Homo sapiens: one gene and its partner. The protein of the gene in region 2 interacts with the protein of the main gene of each other region in a pairwise test. Each region holds a gene or a part of one and is shown on either strand. Other genes may lie near its edges. The genes, in order: TERT and MAP2K5.

Region 1 (3,808 bases), on a different chromosome or scaffold from region 2:
CACTTAGAGGGAAAGGCATGACTAAACTAAGAAGCTAGAAAAGGAATGAAAGAATAAACCAAGAAAAAGCATACAATGGAGAGATAGAAACGTCAGAGGTAAATCAGTGAAATTCAAAACTAAGACCCAAGAGGGAAGTCTGACGAAGGCTGGCGGAGACACCGGCCCTCCACGTGGGTCTCAGAGCAGGAGACAGACAGAGACACTCCAACCTGTGGCTGGACGTCAATCCATGTGAGGGGGCGACTGGAGGCAGAGCCCAGCCTAAGCAATGAGCGGCAGGTGCCCAGAATAAGGTGACAAGCGTTGCCACCCACCCAAGGGGGCCAAGCAGAGGGGCAGCTTGGGAGAAAACAGGACAAGTGAGGGGGCTGGGGTGACTTGCTTTCCTTCAGGGCACAGAGAACCCTTTCTGGGATGTCTCCAGCAACACGTGGCAGCAGACACAGGCAGCCCAGAGTCCAGCCTCGGCATGAGACAAGCTGGGAGAGGAGTATTGGCAGCATGCATGTGGCGGGCACGTGGTGAGCAAGCCAGGCCCAACAGAGGCAAGCGGACCTGAAGCTGTGGCTGCAGTGCCTGGCACGCGGGAGGCGAGAGCCTGCAGTCCCGTGTCCCCGTAGCAAAATGGAACGGAGAGGTGACCAAGAAGAGCCGAGCATCAGAAAAGATAGGCTTGGGGACCAGCACTGCGCCTGCACCATCTACCCAGGCAATGGGCAACCGGCGCAGCTGTGGCTATAGAAAGAGCAAACATTCAGGAGCAAGCTCAAGTGAGCAAACGCCAAGGACACCTGGGGACAGAGCCTCACTCACCCTACACGAGACAGGGACACCCAGGGACAGCGCCTCACTCACCCTGCACCTGAGAGGGACACCCGGGGGCCGCAACTCACTCACCCTACACGTGACAGGGACACCCGGGGACGGCGCCTCACTCACCCTACACGTGACAGGGACACCCGGGGATGGCGCCTCACTCACCCTACACCTGAGAGGGACACCCAGGGACGGCGCCTCACTCACCCTACACGTGACAGAGACACCCGGGGACAGTGCCTCACTCACCCTACACGTGACAGGGACACCCGGGGACGGGGCCTCACTCACCCTGCACGTGACAGGGACACCCGGGGACGGCGCCTCACTCACCCTACACGTGACAGGGACACCCGGGGACGGCGCCTCACTCACCCTACACGTGACAGGGACACCCGGGGACGGCGCCTCACTCACCCTACACGTGACAGGGACACCCGGGGACGGCGCCTCACTCACCCTACACGTGACAGGGACACCCGGGGACGGCGCCTCACTCACCCTGCACGTGACAGGGACACGCGGGGACGGCGCCTCACTCACCCTGCACGTGACAGGGACACCCGGGGGCCTCGCGTCAATCACCCTGCACGTGACAGGGACACCCGGGGACGGCGCCTCACTCACCCTGCACGTGACAGGGACACCCGGGGACAGTGCCTCATTCACCCTACACGTGACAGGGACACCCGGGGACCGCGCCTCACTCACCCTGAACGTGACAGGGACACCCGGGGACAGTGCCTCACTCACCCTGCAAGTGACAGGGACACCCGGGGGCCGCGCCTCACTCACCCTGCACGTGACAGGGACACCCGGGGGCCGTGCCTCACTCACCCTGCACGTGACAGGGACACCCGGGGGCCGCGCCTCACTCACCCTGCACGTGACAGGGACACCCGGGGGCCGCGCCTCACTCACCCTGCACGTGACAGGGACACCCGGGGGCCGCGCCTCACTCACCCTACACGTGACAGGGACACCCGGGGGCCGCGCCTCACTCACCCTGCACGTGACAGGGACACCCGGGGGCCGCGCCTCACTCACCCTACACGTGACAGGGACACCCGGGGACAGTGCCTCACTCACCCTACACGTGACAGTGACACCCGGGGACCGCGCCTCACTCACCCTACACGTGACAGGGACACCCGGGGGCCGTGCCTCACTCACCCTGAACGTGACAGGGACACCCGGGGACGGCGCCTCACTCACCCTACACGTGACAGGGACACCCGGGGACGGCACCTCACTCACCCTACACGTGACAGGGACACCCGGGGACGGCGCCTCACTCACCCTGCACGTGACAGGGACACGCGGGGACGGCGCCTCACTCACCCTGCACGTGACAGGGACACCCGGGGGCCTCGCGTCAATCACCCTGCACGTGACAGGGACACCCGGGGACAGCGCCTCACTCACCCTGCACGTGACAGGGACACCCGGGGACGGTGCCTCACTCACCCTACACGTGACAGGGACACCCGGGGACCGCGCCTCACTCACCCTGAACGTGACAGGGACACCCGGGGACAGTGCCTCACTCACCCTACACGGGACAGGGACACCCGGGGACCGTGCCTCACTCACCCTGCACGTGACAGGGACACCCGGGGACCGCGCCTCACTCACCCTGCACGTGACAGGGACACCCGGGGACCGCGCCTCACTCACCCTGCACGTGACAGGGACACCCGGGGACCGCGCCTCACTCACCCTGCACGTGACAGGGACACCCGGGGGCCGCGCCTCACTCACCCTGCACGTGACAGGGACACCCGGGGGCCGCGCCTCACTCACCCTGCACGTGACAGGGACACCCGGGGGCCGTGCCTCACTCACCCTGCACGTGACAGGGACACCCGGGGACGGCGCCTCACTCACCCTGCACGGGACAGGGACACCTGGGGACCGCGCCTCACTCACCCTGCACGGGACAGGGACACCCGGGGACAGTGCCTCACTCACCCTACACGTGACAGGGACACCTGGGGACCGCGCCTCACTCACCCTGCACGTGACAGGGACACCCGGGGACAGTGCCTCACTCACCCTATACCTGGGAGGGACACCCAGGGACGGTGCCTCACTCACCCTACACGTGACAGGGACACCTGGGGCCGCGCCTCACTCACCCTACACCTGAGAGGGACACCCGGGGACAGCGCCTCACTCACCCTACACCTGGGAGGGACACCCAGGGACGGTGCCTCACTCACCCTACACGTGACAGGGACACCCGGGGACCGCGCCTCACTCACCCTGCACGTGACAGGGACACCCGGGGACAGCGCCTCACTCACCCTGCACGGGACAGGGACACCCGGGGACCACGCCTCACTCACCCTACACGTGACAGGGACACCCGGGGACGGCGCCTCACTCACCCTACACCTGAGAGGGACACCCGGGGACAGTGCCTCACTCACCCTACACGTGACAGGGACACCCGGGGACCGCGCCTCACTCACCCTGCACGTGACAGGGACACCCGGGGACAGTGCCTCACTCACCCTGCACGGGACAGGGACACCCGGGGGCCACACCTCAATCACGCTGCACGGGACAGGGACACCCGGGGGCCGCGCCTCACTCACCCTACACGTGACAGGGACACCTGGGGGCAACGCCTCACTCACCCTGCACGTGACAGGGACACCCGGGGACCACGCCTCACTCCCTGCATAAGCCAGGGGCAGATTGTGACCTCATCTGAAGTCAGAGAACAGCAATGACAGGCAGAGTCCTGATCAGAGAACTCAAACTCTCCTCAACGAAGGAAGCTGGAGCACAAAAAGCAAAACTGGGTTGCATGACGCTTATCTGACTCGGCGTGGTCCACCTGAGCCGCAGCAGGTGTGAGGCAGCTGCCGTTCGATGGGTAGGGACTTCCAGTCACGCAAGACGCAGCATTTCAAGCAACCTGCTGTAAACACCGCCGAGTTAGCAATTCTGCACTGTACACAGAAAACGGTGTTAGGAGTGC
Region 2 (3,808 bases):
GAAATTCCACTAAAATGCTTTATGTGTCGTCTAAATATATATCATTTTCAAATATTTCTTAAATACTAATATAAAGTCTTAATCAACACTTTTACTCTTAAAGATAAATGCCAGGGTGAAGGCTAACACACTGGACTTTCAATCCTAAATATTCACTATAGTCATTTTGATGTGCCAGTAGGGGAAAAGTATTCTCAAGGCTGATATGTATATACCAGCAATTTACAAAAGTACTGTGAATTAAACAACCCATAAGTGTCTGTTCCAGTATTCATACATTACTGAGTGATCTCTTTCTATAATCTCTTTGCAGTATTATTCCACAGTAATGGAACAGCAAGTAAATGGACAGTTAATAGAGCCTCTGCAGATATTTCCAAGAGGTAATGTTGAGCAAATTCTAATCAACAATGATTATTTCAGTAAACTGTTTCATCAACAGTTATGTTTCCAAAGGTTTAAATGCACATAACATGATGTTTAGCTCTTAATTCGAAAAACAAAAGAAGTATTCATTATCGTGGGGATTGCAGGCTATATTATAGTTATGGCAGATAAAATATCTAATTTACTAGAGTAAATTAAACTAACTAGATTGTTTTTTGTTTTTGAAGTACATACTTACATTAGCTTAAAGAACTCTTTTGGGGGTCCACATGGTTTCTAAAGCAAGGCAAATGAATGACTTTAATTCTGGATATTTATAAATTGTGGCTCATGATGGTGGCCAAAGCTGCTATTGAGGAGAAAGCTTTCAGTTAGCACAGAAGCGAAGATTTACTGAGGTGTTAGGAGAGAAATTTTGGTGGAATGTTTGGTATCTGGTTTTTTGAGGAGGTATTTTCTAAATAATTGAAATTCTTCATAAATGGAAATTTGATTATCTCCAAAAATATGAGCTGATGAGAGTAAGTTTCAGTGAATCACTTGGTCAGATAATTTTCTTTTTCCCTTTTAGGTTTGGCAGTACTATCCTTGTATCAGATATGATTGTTCAACCGTGTATAAATGTTCCCTCAAAATTTGAATAATGGTGAACAAGAACAGTTTAATTATATAAACCATTAAGTCTTTCACCCGTTATACATTGCCCCACTTGGAATCCATGTTTTCTAACTAATGGAACAGATAAGGAAATTCTCTAAGTAACCCTTCTAGAAATAACTTAATTGAAATAATTAAAAGTTAAACTTACCTTCGTTAACTGATACTGTACAAATAATCATGGTATGAGTTTTCCAATTAAACATTCTAGACTTTCATTACCTGTAACTCTCTGAAGTTTGAATGGCTCAATTAACCAGTAGGCTCCTATTTGCACTGATAAAGTCTCCAAAGGCAGCTGTCTTGGCCAACCCACAAGAAGATCTGGGTTCAAGAATAATACTGCTCTTCCAGCATATGTGTGGGCAGCAGAATCAGGAGTGCTTAGTATATTACTAGTAACTTATTGAAGTGCTAAGTAAGTACAGTTGGGCTATTTAAGGCCAGTGATAGTCCAAAACAAGGATTGTGATTAATCCACTTCTGTTGTACTTGAAGATTAAGCACCAAAACAGAAAAAAAGAAATGTTGCTATTTCTGTTTATTAGTCCAATGATTAGGATGTAGATGATTTCTTTTTTTTTTTTTTTTTTTTCGAGACAGAGTCTCGCTCTGCCACCAGGCTGGAGTGCAGTGGTGCAATCTCAGCTCACCGCAACCTCTGACTCCCTGGTTCAAGTGATTCTCCTGCCTCAGCCTCCTGAGTAGCTGGGATTACAGGCTCGTGTCACCACACCCAGCTAATTTTTGTATTTTTAGCAGAGACAGGGTTTTACCATGTTGGCCAGGATGGTCTTGATCTCCTGACCTCATGATCCACTCCCCTCGGCCTCCCAAAGTGCTGGGATTACAGGCGTGAGCCACCACGCCCAGCCAGGAGGCAGATTATTTCTTAATGTTTGCAGTGACTGGAGAATTTGGGCAAGTTTCAAAATTCTTTCTTCACAAGGAGTAGTATTTTACAAACTGAAAATTTCCATTAATTTCTCTATTGACATTATAGCTCTGCCATAGAAAACCCTAATTGCAGTATCCTGGAGAAATATACTTCCAGGCAGGGCACAGTGGTTCATGCCTGTAATCTCAGCACTTTGGGAAGCTGAGGCAGGTGGATTGCTTGAGCTCAAGAGTTTGAGACCAGCTTGGGCAACATGTCAAAACCCTGTCTCTACCAAAAAAATACAAAAATTAGCCGGGCGTGGTGCACACTCCTGTTGTCCCAGCTACTTGGTGGGCTGAGGTGGGAGGATGGCTTGAGCCCAAGAGGTTGAGGCTACAGTGAGCCATGTTTGTGCCACTGTACTCCAGCCTGAGTGACAGAGCAATACATTGTCTCAAAACACACACACACACACACACACACACACACACTTCCAATGTTGTGGGTCTTCATTTGTCTCTAAAAAATTTTTTTTAGTTATCTTCATCCAAATTCTTTCAAGTTTTGTTTGTTTTCTTTCCTTTTGTGAGCAGTCCTGTCATTCTCACTGTTCATCGCATTATGCTTCTTCCCATGATAATCACAACCATTTTTAGATGTCTGCTCTGTTAAGGCATTAATATTGCTTTACGCATCATCATCTGTAATCCTCCTGATAGTTCTGCCTATTAGGTATTACTGTTTCCAATTTATAGATGAGAATATTGAGATTCAGAGAGGTTAAGTAACTTCAGAGTCACACAGCTTATAAGTGCTTACTATGCCCTTTGAGTAAGAATTTCATTTAAATTATAATATGATTAAAATGGAAAGGCATATATATTAAAATATAATTAGAGTGTGCATGGGAGTAGTTTGGAGGGCTTGTTTTGGAGTGGAGAGGAGTATGTTATGGGGAGAGGATACTTAAAGGAGGAAATTATATGAGATGTCATTGTCATATGTAGTCTTAGCATAAAACCCACTAGGCTGCAATAAATTGTTAAACATAGTCTTTCTAAGCCAAATTTAAATATTTCAGAATATGAGACTGTCTTTTTATTTCTGTGTTTTTTTAATATGCTATGGTGTAATTGTTTCTAGTTTTTGGTAGTCTTTTGCTTTTTGCTACCTGTCTACATCGAATGTACATTTTATCATATGTAGATAAGTGAAATTATGCAAATTTACATAATCGACATGTAGACATACTGGGTATATTTCCTGTGTCTACCTAGTTGGTTAGAGGCCCTCAGATCTTAAATTTTATGGTTAGGCCCCATGTTAAAAAGAATCTTTAGACTGAACAAGTAGGAAGGATAGGAGAAAATGATTGTTTCCTTATTTATTTATTTATTTATTTATTTTGGAGACAGAGTCTCACTCTATCACCCAGGCTGGAGTGCAGTGTGTGCTCACTGCAGCCTTTATGTCCCCAGGCTGGAGCAGTTCTCTCGCCTCAGCTCCTGAGTAGCTGGGGCTACAGGCATGTGCCACCACGCTGGGCATTTTTTTTTAATTTTTTAATAGCGACAAGGTATCACAGTGTTGCCCAGGCTGGTGTCAAACTCCTGAGCTCAAGCAATCCTCCCACCACCACTTCTCCAAGTGCTGGGATGAAAGGCATGAGCCACCATGCCTGGCCATAATTCTGATGTAATAACATGTTCTCCTCATTCCAAGTAGCACAGTTGCCTTGGATAGTAACTCCCAGGTCATGGCTAAGTCCTCTACATTGTTAAAAGATATGTTAAATATTAATAAGTGTGAACATTGACTAGCTTTATAGTAATTCCTGACCCGATAACTTTAGGAAATATGAGGTTACTGGGTTTTTTGACTGCT

Evidence for each region.
Region 1: the proteins of MAP2K5 (region 2) and TERT come close enough for resonance energy transfer, tested with the Homo sapiens proteins (one large-scale study listed by BioGRID).

Annotation. Positions count from the first base shown.
Region 1 is NC_000005.10:1,288,282-1,292,089, forward strand, and holds part of TERT (telomerase reverse transcriptase), read right to left. Parts: intron 1-3,808. UniProt on the Homo sapiens protein: Telomerase is a ribonucleoprotein enzyme essential for the replication of chromosome termini in most eukaryotes. Active in progenitor and cancer cells. Inactive, or very low activity, in normal somatic cells.
Region 2 is NC_000015.10:67,580,441-67,584,248, forward strand, and holds part of MAP2K5 (dual specificity mitogen-activated protein kinase kinase 5), read left to right. Parts: intron 1-313; coding exon 314-383; intron 384-3,808. UniProt on the Homo sapiens protein: Acts as a scaffold for the formation of a ternary MAP3K2/MAP3K3-MAP3K5-MAPK7 signaling complex.